2 linked regions of the Homo sapiens genome follow. The protein of the gene in region 2 interacts with the protein of the main gene of each other region in a biochemical or structural test. Each region holds a gene or a part of one and is shown on either strand. Other genes may lie near its edges.

Region 1 (8,394 bases), on a different chromosome or scaffold from region 2:
GGTCGAATCGGGAGGTGCCCAGAGGTCAGACACAATCCAGTGAAAGGCTAAGTGGCCTTGCTTGTTCCCAGAACCACATGTTGGCAGACAGTGGAGGCAGAAACGCATGCAGTTCTCGCAATGCCTGAAGATCCCTCCAACCTCTTAAAGTCAACAGGACCAAAACCAAACTAACTCCTTGTGTTTCTCCCAGACCCCAGCCTCCTCACTCACGCCATCCTCCTAGCCGTTCCAGGGGTCAGCCACCCTCTTGTTCATTTTATTTGAGATGCATTCTCCACAAAAACTTTGAGTAAGAAAAAATAAAGAAATTTGTTTTCAGCTAATTTACCCACTCAAGAGCTTGCTCTCATCTCTCAGTTTTTCTCGGAAAATTTTTTGCACAATCCCTCCTTTCCTGACTCACAGGAATGAAATGTGAAAGTAAATAGTTTTGAGTACATTTTAACAATAATCTTCACTTCCCTATTATCGTCTCTGAAAATCTACCCCTAAAGTCATGCACAGTAACCTTAGTAATTCTCAAGTTGGAGAGATTATGTGCCCTAGGGGACCTCTGGCAATATCTGGAGACATTTTGGGTTGCTATAAATAGGGGAGGTAGGGCTGGGAGCAGTGGCTCACGCCTGTAATCCCAGCACTTTGGGAGGCTAAGGTGGGTGGATCACCTGAGATCAGCAGTTCGAGACCAACTTGGCCAACATGTTGAAACCCTGTCTCTATTAAAAATACAAAAATTAGCTGGGCGTGATGGTGTGCGCCTGTAATCCCAGCTACTTGGGAGGCTGAGGCAGGAGAATTGGTTGAACCCAGGAGGCAGAGGTTGCAGTGAGTCGAGATCACACCATTGCACTCCAGCCTGGGCCACAAGAGCAAAACTCTGTCTCAAAAAAAAAAAAAAAAAAAAATAGGGGAGGTGGTGGTACCGGTCATCTAGTGGGTAGAACTCAGGGAGGTGGCTCAATATCCTACAATGCCCAGGACAGACGCCACAACAAAGATCGGCTGGCCCAAAATGTCAACAGTGCCAGGGTTGAAAAAACTCGCTTTAGGAGAAGACAAGAAAAGAAGAAAATGCTTCATAATATAAAATATCCTAATATTCTCTTATGCTACTTCTTCTATAAGCACAAATAGACAAAGCACACACTGTATCTTAAAATTCCACATTTAGAGTTAATGAGAATTGATGTTATATGACAAGATCTGCAGCCGGGCAGGAGGGAGAGGACAGGTCAGCTCTGATTTCCCAACATAAACCCCTCCTTACTAAATGGTAACATGACTTTATCTTCGGGCACTGCTCCAGAGTGAAATACCTTACCAATAAACATCAACTCCAGCCTTATTATTTAATTTTATTTATTTATTTAGAGACAGAGTCTCACTCTGTCCCCCAGGCTGGAGCAAAGTGGTGCGATTTCGGCTCACTGCAACCTCTGCCTCCCAGGTTTAAGGGATTCTCCTGTCTCAGCCTCCCGAGTAGCTGGGACTACAGGCGTGCCCCGCCAGGCCTGGCTAATTTTGGTATTTTGGTTAGAGATGGGGTTTCGCCATGTTGGTCAAGCTGGTCTCGAACTCCTAGACTCAAGTGATCCACCCGCCTCAGCCTCCCAAAGTGCTGGGATTACATGTGTGAGCCACCGTGCTTGGCCCAGCCTCATTTTTTAAAACAGGCCTTTTGATTTTAACATTTTCTGCAAAAACAAAGTCCTCTGATATAAACTGTGATCCAGCTCAGACCAGGCATCTATTTTTGTCCCCTGCTCCCCGACTATGTAAAAAATTCCCATCACTAAACCTTCTCATTATTGGGAGGGGGCGTGAGCATGCGTTAAGATTTATGATTGAGACTCCCCCAAAAGTAGTAAAACACTTCCAGAGGATCTAAGACAATCACCAAAAGCGCCCCTTAGCGTGTGCGGCAAAAATTATAACCGAATGCAAAGAATCTTATCAAAGGAATGTCTTCAAGTTAACCAACGTTTCCTATTACACCTTCCAAAGCTGTTAGGGGCGAGTCCCACGCAGAACGTCCGCTGCTCTGCCTGGCCTCTGTGTTCTTGCTCCAGCCACACACCGCGGTCTCAGGAGTCAAGCACGGCACCTGGCTGCCAAGGCGTGACTGGAAAAGGTTAATTAACACCGAGCCTCTTCCAGGTGAACGCGAACGCGAGTGGGTGTGGACCGCAAGGTCGGCCAGTGGCTGCCGCGGGAAGCGCAGGCCCGGACCACACCCGACCTCCGCACTTGGGGTCCCCTCCGGCGGGATCCGCAGCTCTCGGGGTGGGTGGTCTCCAGCCGGCCACTGCGGGAATGCCGCCGGTCCTGGAAGGACACCCTTCTATTCAAACTCAAGGGAGAAAGGGATCATTTAAATCCCCCGCATGGCTGCGCGCTATCCCCGGAAGGCTGCTCCAGCACCACCTAGCGAGGATGCCGCCGCGCAGGGCGCTCCCAGGTGTGCACGCGCAGGTGTACGGATTCGGGGAGCGCTCCCAGGTGTACACGCGCAGGTGTGCGGACTCAGGGAGCGCTCCCCAGGTGTGCACGCGCAGGTGTGCGGACTCGAGGAGAGCGCCCAGGTGTACACTAGCAGGTGTGCGGACTCGGGGAGCGCTCCCAGGTGTGAGCGCGCAGGTGTGCGGACTTGGGGCGGTGGGGGGCGCCCAGGCTTGCACGCGCAGGTGTGCGGACTCGGAAGCGCGCCCAGGCGTACACGCGCAGGTGAGCGAACTCGGGGGGCGCGCCTAGGCGTAGGTATGCGGACTCCGGGCCGCGAAAGACAGGTCATGCCAGTGAACCCCCAAACCCGGCCCACGCTCCCTGCGCCCCAAGCCGCTCATCCCCAACTCACCTCTTCCAGAAATTTGGTCAAATCGTACACCTTGTGGTGCAGGATCAGCCAGGTGCTCTTGCTGTGGTTGTGCTTCTGAATCTCCTCTAGGGTGTAGTACTTCACGGCCTCGTCCGACTGCTCTGCCATCTCGGTTCGCCGCGAGCCAGGCCCAGCACACACAGCCCCGTCGGGTGGAGCAGAGCGCGCGACTCAGCCAGCTCCACCCGGGACATTCCCCGCGCCGGGAACCCCACTGGGGGCTGGGCGGCCGGCTCAGGGGCGGGGCGCAGTAGAAGGGCCTCCGACGGTTGGCCATCATCCTTGTCACTCAAAAGTCCCCGCCTTCGGTCGACCCCCTCCGCCTGCCCAAGCGTGGTCCCGCCCAGTATGCGGGTGTTAATTGGCTGCCGGAGGTGCCCTTCACAATCTCCCGGCTGCCGCAGCGCGCGGAGAGCGTGACAGGACTCCACGGAGTCTGCGCGGAAGGGCGGGACTAACTGTGGCGAGGGCTGAGGTGGGAGGTCGGGGGCGTCCCCGCGGGTTAAGCGTGCGAGAGAGCGAGGTGCACCAGCGGGCATGGATGGCCTGTGCAGAGTCCAGTCTTGTGAGGGCGGCGAACTAGGCAGCGAATCGCGGGAGTTTCCTATTGGCAGCAGTCCGAGTCCCAGACGTTAATTTGTAACAAAAGTAGCGATGGCCAAGCCCATAAAGGGGGCATCTCGGAAAGCCGTTCGCATGCACGGAAGAGATGAAAGCCCCGTGCGCGCTAGAAAACGGTTTCGCAACTCACTTCGGGAAGCAAATGCGCTGCCCCCCAAAACATAAAGTTGGCGAACTGTGCCTGACCCCGCTGGGGTTTTGGAATGCCTCGTCCTCACAGGAAAAAAATCCAGGGAAATCATCTTTTCCTTAAAAAGCAAAAGTGTCCAAATTATTTCTGTGACTGAAGTAGTTTGTCTGCGGTTGGCCAGTGACATGGCAAGGCCTTGTTTGTGCATTTAAGGTAAATCAGATTCTCTTCTAGGAGTCTGGAAGAGAACTTCCCCAAAGGGCACCCTCTTTCCCTTCTGACACAGAGGAAATACCACATATAAAGAGCTACAAATGTTTGAAGGAGAAAAAAAATAAAGAAAAATTCCAGCATGTTAAAATTTGATATTTTATGTAGGCCCTTTTCAGCAATGGTAGTTAATTCCAAAAAGAACCACACGAGAGGTTTCACATGTGGGGTCATCCATCCTTCCAGGGATGCAGAAGGTTCCTACACATACTAGGTGTCTGATGAATGTGAGCTCCCTTCCCCCTGCTTACCTCCTCCATAGGAATGCATGCCTATCCAGAAAAACACAAAACACACGCATGTCAGGCCTCTGAGCCCAAGCCTGCACATATACATCCAGATGGCCTGAAGCAACTGAAGAATCACAAAAGAAGTGAAAATGCTGAAGCAACTGAAGAATCACAAAAGAAGTGAAAATGGCCGGTTCCTGCCTTAACTGATAAGACAGTCACCTGTCCTCCTGCTCTTTGCTCTGTGAGAAAGATCCACCTACAACCTCGGGTCCTCAGACCAACCAGCTCCAGGAACATCTCACCAATTTTAAATTGGGTAAGCAGCTTCTTTTTACTCTCTTCTCCAACCTCTCTCACTATCTCTCAACCTCTTTCTCCTTTCAATTTTGGCACCACCCTTCAATCTATCCCTTCCCTTAATTTCAGTTCCTTTCCTTTTCTGATAGAGACAGAGGAGATGTGTTTTATCCGTGAACCCAAAACTCCGGCACTGGTCACGGACTCGAGAAGACAGTCTTCCCTTGGTGTTTAATCACTGCAGGGATGCCTGCCTGATTATTCACCCACATTTCAGAGGTGTCTGATCACCACAGGGACACCTGCCTTGATCCTTCACCTTGGTGTCAAGTACCGACCCCCCCTGTGTCTCTGCCCTCTCTTTTCTCTGGGCTTGCCTCCTTCACTATGGGCAACCTTCCACCCTCCATTCCTCCTTCTTCTCCCTTAGCCTGTGTTCTCAAGAACTTAAAACCTCTTCAACTCTCGCCTGACCTAAAACCTAAACACCTTATTTTCTTCTGCAATACCACCTGACCCCAATACAAACTTGACAGTGGTTCCAAATAGCCAGAAAATGGCACTTTCAATTTCTCCACCCTACAAGATCTAGATAATTCTTGTCGTAAAATGGGCAAATGGTCTGAGGTTCCTGACATCCAGGCATTCTTCTACACATCAGTCCCGCCCTAGTCTCTGCTCCCAATGCGACTCATCCCAAATCTTTCTTCTTTCTCTCCTGTGTGTTCCTTCGGTCTCCACCCCAAGCTCTGAGTACTTTGAATCCTCCTTTTCTGTGGAGCCATCTGACCTCTCCCCTGCTCGCCGGGCTGAGCCAGGTCCCAATTCTTCCGCAGCCTCTGTTCCCCCACTCTATAATCCTTCTATCACTTCCCCTCCTCACACCTAGTCCGGCTTATGGTTTTGTTCCTTGACTAGCCCTACCCCACCTGCCCAACAATTTCCTCTTAAAGAGGTGGCTGGAGCTAAAGGCATAGTCAAGGTTGTTGCTCCTGTTTTCTTTATCCGACCTCTCCCAAAACAGTTAGGCTCTTTTTCATCAAATATAAAACCCCAGCCCAGTTCATGGCCCGTTTGGCAACAACCCTTAAACGCCTTACCGCCCTAGACCCAGAGAGGCCAGAAGGCCGTCTTATTCTCAGTATGCATTTTATTACCCAACCCACTCCTGACGTTAGAAAAAGCTCCAAAAATTGGATTCCAGCCCTCAAACCCCACAACAGGACTTAACCTTGCCTTCAAGGTGTACAATAATAGAGAAGAGTGGCAATTACTTGCCTCTGCTGTGAGAGAAACTTCAGCCACATCTCCAGCATACAAGAATTTCAAAACGCCTAAACCGCAGTGGCCAGGCGTTCTTCCAAGACCTCCTACCCCAGGATCTTGCTTCAAGTACTGAAAATGTGGCCACTGGGCCAAGGAATGTCTGCAGCCCGGATTCCTCCTAAGCAATGTCCCATCTGTGCAGGACCCCACTGGAAATTGGACTGTCCAACTCACCTGGCAGCCATTCCTAGAGTTCCTGGAACTCTGGCGCAAGGCTCACTGACTGACTCCTTCCCAGATCTTCTCGGCTTAGTGGCTGAAGACTGACACTGCCCGATCGCCTTGGAAGCCTCCTGGACCATGATAGATGCTTTAGGTAACTCTTACAGTGGAGGATGAGTCCATCCCCTTCTTAATACGGAGGCTATCCACTGCACATTACCTTCTTTTCAAGGGCCTCTTTCCCTTGCCTCCATAACAGTTGTGGGTATTGACGGCCAGGCTTCTAAACCTCTTAAAACTCCCCAATTCTGGTGCCAACTGGGACAGTATTCTTTTATGCGCTCCTTTTTAGTTATTCCCGCCTGCCCAGTTCCCTTATTAGGTCGAGGCATTTTAACTAAATTATCTGCTTCCCTGACTATTCCTAGGCTACAGCCACACCTCATTGTCACCCTTTTTCCCAGTTCAAAGCCTCCTTCACATATTTTCCTTGTATCTCCTCACCTTAATCCACAAGTATGAGACATCTCTACTCCCTCCTTGGCAACTGATCATGCACCCCTTACCATCCCATTAAAACCTAATCACCCTTACCCTGCTCAACACCAATATCCCATCCCACAGCACGCTTTAAAAGAATTAAAGCCTGTTATCACTCACTTGTTACAGCATGGCCTTATAAAGCCTATAAACTCTCCTTACAATTCCCCCATTTTACCCCTCCATAACCCATTCTGTTCTGGATCTCAAACATGCTTTCTTTACTATTCCTTTGCACCTTTCATCCCAGCCTCTCTTCGCTTTCACTTAGACTGACCCTGACACCCATCAGCCTCAGCAACTTACCTGGGCTGTACTGGCGCAAGGCTTCAGGGACAGCCCCCATTACTTCAGTCAAGCCCAAATTTCTTCCTCATCCGTTACCTATCTCGGCATAATTCTTCATAAAAATACATGTGCTCTCCCTGCTAATCATGTCCAGCTAATCTCCCAAACCCCAACCCCTTCTACAAAACAACTCCTTTCCTTCCTAGGCATGGTTAGGTACTTTTGCCTTTAGATACCTGGTTTTGCCATCCTAACGAAACCATTCATTCTCCCCATTTCCCCATATTACCTCTTTCCTGTTCCCCACCCAGACCACGCTTGGTTTATTGATGATAGTTCTTCCAGGCCCAATCGCCAATCACTGGCAAAGGCAGGCTATGCTATAGTGTCTTCCACATCTATCACTGAGGCTACCACTCTGCCCCCCTCCACTACCTCTCAGCAAGCCAAACTCATTGTCTTAACCTGGGCCCTCACTCTTGCAAAGGGACTGCATGTCAATATTTATACTGACTCTAAATATGCCTTCCATATCCCGTACCACCATGCTGTTATATGGGCTGAAAGAGGTTTCCTCACTACACAAGGGTCCTCCATCATTAATGCCTCTTTAATAAAAACTCTTCTCAAGGCCACTTTACTTCCAAAGGAAGCTGGAGTCATTCACTGCAAGGGCCATCAAAAGGCATCAGATCGCGTCGCTCAGGGCAATGCTTATGCTGATAAGGTAGCTAAAGAAGCAGCTAGCATTCCTACTTCTGTCCCTCACGGCCAGTTTTTCTCCTTCTCATCAGTCACTCCTACTTACTCTCCCACTGAAGTTTCTACCTATCAATCCCTCCCCACTCAAGGTAAATGGTTCTTAGACCAAGGAAAATATCTCCTTCCAGCCTCACAGGCCCATTCTATTCTGTCGTCACTTCATAACCTCTTCCATGTATGTTATAAGCTGCTAACCCGCCTCTTAGAACCTCTCATTTCCTTTCCATCGTGGAAATCTATTCTCAAGGAAATCGCTTCTCTGTGTTCTATCTGCTATTCTACTCCTCAGGGATTGTTGAGGCCCCCTCCCTTCCCTACACATCAAGCTCGGAGATTTGCCCCTGCCCAGGACTGGCAAATTGACTTTACTCGTATGCCCCGAGTCAGGAAACTAACATACCTCTTGGTCTGGGAAGACACTTTCACCAGATAGGTAGAGGCCTTTCCCACAGGGTCTGAGAAGGCCACCGTGGTCATTTCTTCCCTTCTGTCAGACATAATTCCTTGGTTTGGACTTCCCACTTCTGTGCAGTCCAATAGCGGACGGGCCTTTATTAGTCAAATCACCCAAGCAGTTTCTCAGGCTCTTGGTATTCAGTGGAAACTTCATACCCCTTATCGTCCTCAATCTTCAGGAAAGGTAGAACGGACTAATGGTCTTTTAAAGACACACCTCACTAAGCTCAGCCTCCAATTTAAAAAGGACCGGATAGTACTTTTACCACTTTCCCTTCTCAGAATTAGAGCCTGTCCTCGAGATGCTACAGAGTACAGCCCATTTGAACTTTTATATGGATGCCCTTTCTTGCTCGGCCCCAACCTCGTCCCAGACACCAGCCCTCTAGGTGACTATCTTCCAGTCCTCCAGCAGGCTAGACAGGAAATTT
Region 2 (4,288 bases):
TGTAGGTAGGTAGCATACAGGAGAGATTTAGATGGACACATTGGATGACAATCCGGTAGGGGCTGTGCTAGGATGAACAATGGGTCTCCATGTTGTCCACATCCTAATTCATGAAACCTGTGATTGTGGGACTGCATATGTCACAATGGACTTTTGAGTAAGTAACGGATCTTGAGGTGGTGACATTATCCTTGATTATCTTAATAAGCTTGATGTAACTAACCACAAGGGTCCTTATAAGAGGGAAAGAGATGTGAAGACAGTCACAGAGAGAGAGATTTGAAGATGCCATTGGCTTTAAAGAGGAAGGAGGGGACCGTACCAAGGAATGCAAAAAAGGCAGCTCTGGAGCTGAAAAGCCAAGGGGCAGGGCTCTCCCTGAAACCTTCTGGGGGTGGGGGTCTGGCCCTCTCCAGAACTTGTTTTAATTCAGTGAAACCCATATATCTGACTTTGACCTCCATAACTGTAAGAGAATAAAAGTCGTTATTTAAAATCACTGAGATTGTGATAGTTTATTACAGCAGTAATAGGAAACTAATATAGGAACAGACAAGCAGGCAGGAAGAAGGAGACAGGTGTATGGGCAGACAGTCTGGAGGGCAGGCAGGAGTTTGGGAGGTGGGTGGAGATTCAGGGATGTTGGGGTGTTCAGACCCAACACCAGGTCGTGGGGGTGACAAAGTCCGGCAGAGTCAAAGCAGTGAGAAAAGACAGTTTGAGAGAGAAAGTGGGTCCAGGGCGCCAAAGCTAAGGATGGAGGCTGTGAAGGCCCCGAGCTCTGGAAGTGCAGATTATTTATTGGTGATCAAACAAAGAAACAGGTGGTGAGAATGTGGGGGTCGAAAGGGCATGTTGCATTAAGCACATGATTTACAGCTGTGACGGTTTAGCATCTGCTCTGCTACTTGAGATAATGGAGAGCAGGTTCTTTTAACTCAAGATACAATTGATCCTGGGAGAGCAAGGAGCGAGGAGGCAGCAAGTTCAGACACATTCCAGAGCCACGAGCCCTGGATTCTATCCAAGCCACGAGGGGTTTTATGCCCCGGGCTTAGATTATGGTGCGTCAGGGTAGCCTTCCACCCTTCAGCACAGAGCTTGGTGTTCCAAAGGCCACAAGGGGTTTTAGACCCTGGATCCTGGACATGATCCAAGACTCTTTTACATTATGTCAGACATGCAAGCTCGGCCTCAGCTTCTCCCAACACTCAGCTTTTCTCCCAACAAGAGATACAGGTGGGTAGGAGACAGGTAGACAAGCAGGTAGGGAGCCTGGAGAAAGGTGAGAGAGAGAAGGGCAGGCAGACTGGGGGACAGCAGGCAGGTGGGAAGAAGGGAAGGTGGGCAGACAGAAAACAGGATATGGGCAGACAGGAAGGGGACAGAAGCGGGGGTCAGGAAGACAGGACGGCAGGTGGAGGCCCTCAAAGCTGGTCCTTGTCTTCACAAGGGTTAGGGAGCCTCCTGAGACGCAGGTGGATTCCATTTTTGGATTTCAACACAAGTCGTGCAATGGGGATGGGGATCCTGGTGGGATCAGGCAGCAGCTCAAAGCGGAGCAGGGTCAGGGCCGTGGCCACCTTCAGCTCGTTCATGGCAAATTGTTTCCCGATGCAGTTCCTGGGCCAGGTGGAGATAATGAATTGAGAAGTGTCCTCAGGCCCCATTCTGATCTGAGCAGGTTTTGGCCCCTGACCCCAGCCCTGAGCTGGACATTCAGTGCCCAACCTCATGTGTCCAGCCCCTGCACACATACAGCCCATGGACACTTCTACCCCGTCCTGGCTTCACACTATCCCAATCCTTGGACAGAGCCGTCTTCCTGGGCTAGCTCCTAACTCCTACCCTCTACCTCTGCTCTCAGCAGCCTGAAACCCTCTATCAAGACAAGGCCAGGGCTCTAAGGCACAGAGTCTAATCACATGAATAGATAAAGAGTTAATCAATGGTTTGTTCACTCCTCCACAAACATTTCTTGTTCTCCAGTGTGGAGGTCAGTTCAGGTCCTGTAGGGTGAGGGTGGGCCACACTCTCAGGTGCTTCCCATGTAGTGGGACACACAGGGACCTGAATCCTCATAGGGGCCCCGATGGGTGTATTAAGGGAGTCAGAAGGGCAGTGGGAGGCTTCCTGGAGGAGAACTGGGTGGGTGATCCTCAGTGTTGCCCCACCTGCCTCCCACCCCAGGGTCCGGGCTCCTGTCTAACCTCACTCCTCCATCCACCAGCCCCTGTAGCCTTCTAATTCTACTCCAGAAACATCCTTCCTTGCCCTTCCTCAGTATTCTTGCCTGGACTTTATGGTTTTCTGCTTCCCCTCCCAGCACACTGAAGCCACAGCCCAGCTCAGACCCTCCCACGCTCTTCATCACAGGTGGGACAGCATCCCAATGCCTCAGCTGGCAGATAAGCCCTCCATGGGCTCTTGCCTCACCCACATTTTACCTGTCCAGCCCACGTCCTGGCCCTGTTCATGTGGAGATGGCTCAGAATGTCCTCCCTCCACCTCTGCCTGCCACATCCTCAAGGCTAAAGTCAGATCCCAGCTGCCTCTCACTCCCTGCCAGCTGGGCCTCTCCCTCCCAGGCCCCCAGGTAGCATTCACGATTTATCCATGAACACTCACAGTCCAGTGCCAAGGACAGCACCAGGGACAGGGACACTCAACACGCCACTCAGTGAGTGAATGAGTGAAAGGATGGTTGATGGAACGATGTGTGTCTGGAGCACAGGATATATTTCTGTACAACACATTTTTGTACTTTTTATCTCTGTTTTCTCATCATGCTGCATAGGACTTGACCCAGAGAGGTAGCTTAAGAAATACTTCTATATTTGAATGATGTTAAGTTTTAAAATGAATAAAATATAATGAAATACACTGAGAGTAAATATTAATTCTGAGCTAGAAATGGACCTTAGGAATGCTCTCCAGTTCTCTAGTGGCAGCGACATGATTTGCAGGCAATGTTTAGGAGGACTTTCTCATGCTGGGATAGACAGACCAGTGCTGGAGAAGGAGTTTCAGGAGGAAGCTTTTTCTTAAAGCCTGTTCTGTGTAAGTGGACTCACCGTTTCAAAAAGTCACATAATTATTTCTTTGAACAAACTTTGTTTCTACTAAGAATTTATATCGTTTTTGCCTGTGTGTATGTCACAGGACGATTCCTGATGCCACAATGATCTCCACCGCAACCATTCTGGAGTTTTCCTCTCCAGCTCAAAAGCAATTTCAAGTGTGTTTTATATTTCACATACCAGGAGGCTTCAAATGTTGTGCGTTATATGATAATTATTGGGCTTTTCTCTCCAAGACAGTGTACTGTTCACATTTTTATGTTTTTGGCCAATATTGTGCTAAGTGGATTACAGGACTATGGTATAAAGATCTCAAGGCATGTACAGAATTTGTCAAACGGGAAAATAGATGTAAATATGTGAACACTATATAATGCAGTAAAAATTTCATTGGGCAAGACAGAAGAATGTATGATATGACACACACTGTTGTAAAACTTTCTTCAAAGGGCTACCTTAACCTCTCCCTTATATGACTTGAAAGGTAGGACTTGCAGGTCATCTGTATTATAAACAGATGCAAAGACTTCAATGATTCATCTCTACGACAGACTAGTGAATTAAATAGGGAAGGTAGTGTGCTGCATTGAGGATGTGTGGGGGGAGAGAAATCTACAGTTTACTATTCCTGACAACTGAGAAAAGCAAACAGCTGAAGTTGAATTTACTGGAGAATATCTAATTTTGAGAATTCATATCCTTAAAGTGAGGAAAATACATGAATATACTGAAGTTTGGAACATGCACTGACAGTGAATTCAGGCTGCCCATTTGAAGAAGCAGAGGGAGCAAAGTCTCCATGGGGTGCTCTGAATGCCACCTTCCTTTTGTACACAGAGACGCCCACACCAGGTGCCTGACTTTCCCACAAATACCAACATTTAAGAGCACACCTGAAGATGCCACATATGAACATCAGGCTCACAAAGATCAGAGGGTTGACCAGAGACTTCCCTCATTCCTCTATTCGAATTACCACACAGGACGTCTCACCTTGATCCTCCTGAGAAGGGCAGGAAAGCGTGGCTGTGTTGAGCAGAACCCGGTGCAAAACGGAAAGGGTCAAACACCTGCAGAGAGAGCACCAGAGCCAGGATAGTTAAGGATCCAGCACCTACTTGCCACCCATGGGGGACAGGACTCCCAGAGGTGGAAGCAGGAGAAGGTATTGGTCTTGAGGGATCACCTCATTTCCTCCTCTCAAGGAC

What was found.
Region 1: of the proteins of CYP4A11 (region 2) and CYB5A, one has a biochemical effect on the other in vitro, tested with the Homo sapiens proteins (one study listed by BioGRID).

What each region holds. Positions count from the first base shown.
Region 1 is NC_000018.10:74,288,890-74,297,283, forward strand, and holds the start of CYB5A (cytochrome b5), read right to left. Parts: upstream 3,075-8,394; 5' UTR 2,987-3,074; coding exon 2,858-2,986; intron 1-2,857.
Region 2 is NC_000001.11:46,928,688-46,932,975, forward strand, and holds the end of CYP4A11 (cytochrome P450 4A11), read right to left. Parts: intron 4,151-4,288; coding exon 4,074-4,150; coding exon of another isoform or gene 4,070-4,073; intron 1,624-4,069; coding exon 1,428-1,623; 3' UTR 501-1,427; downstream 1-500. UniProt on the Homo sapiens protein: A cytochrome P450 monooxygenase involved in the metabolism of fatty acids and their oxygenated derivatives (oxylipins).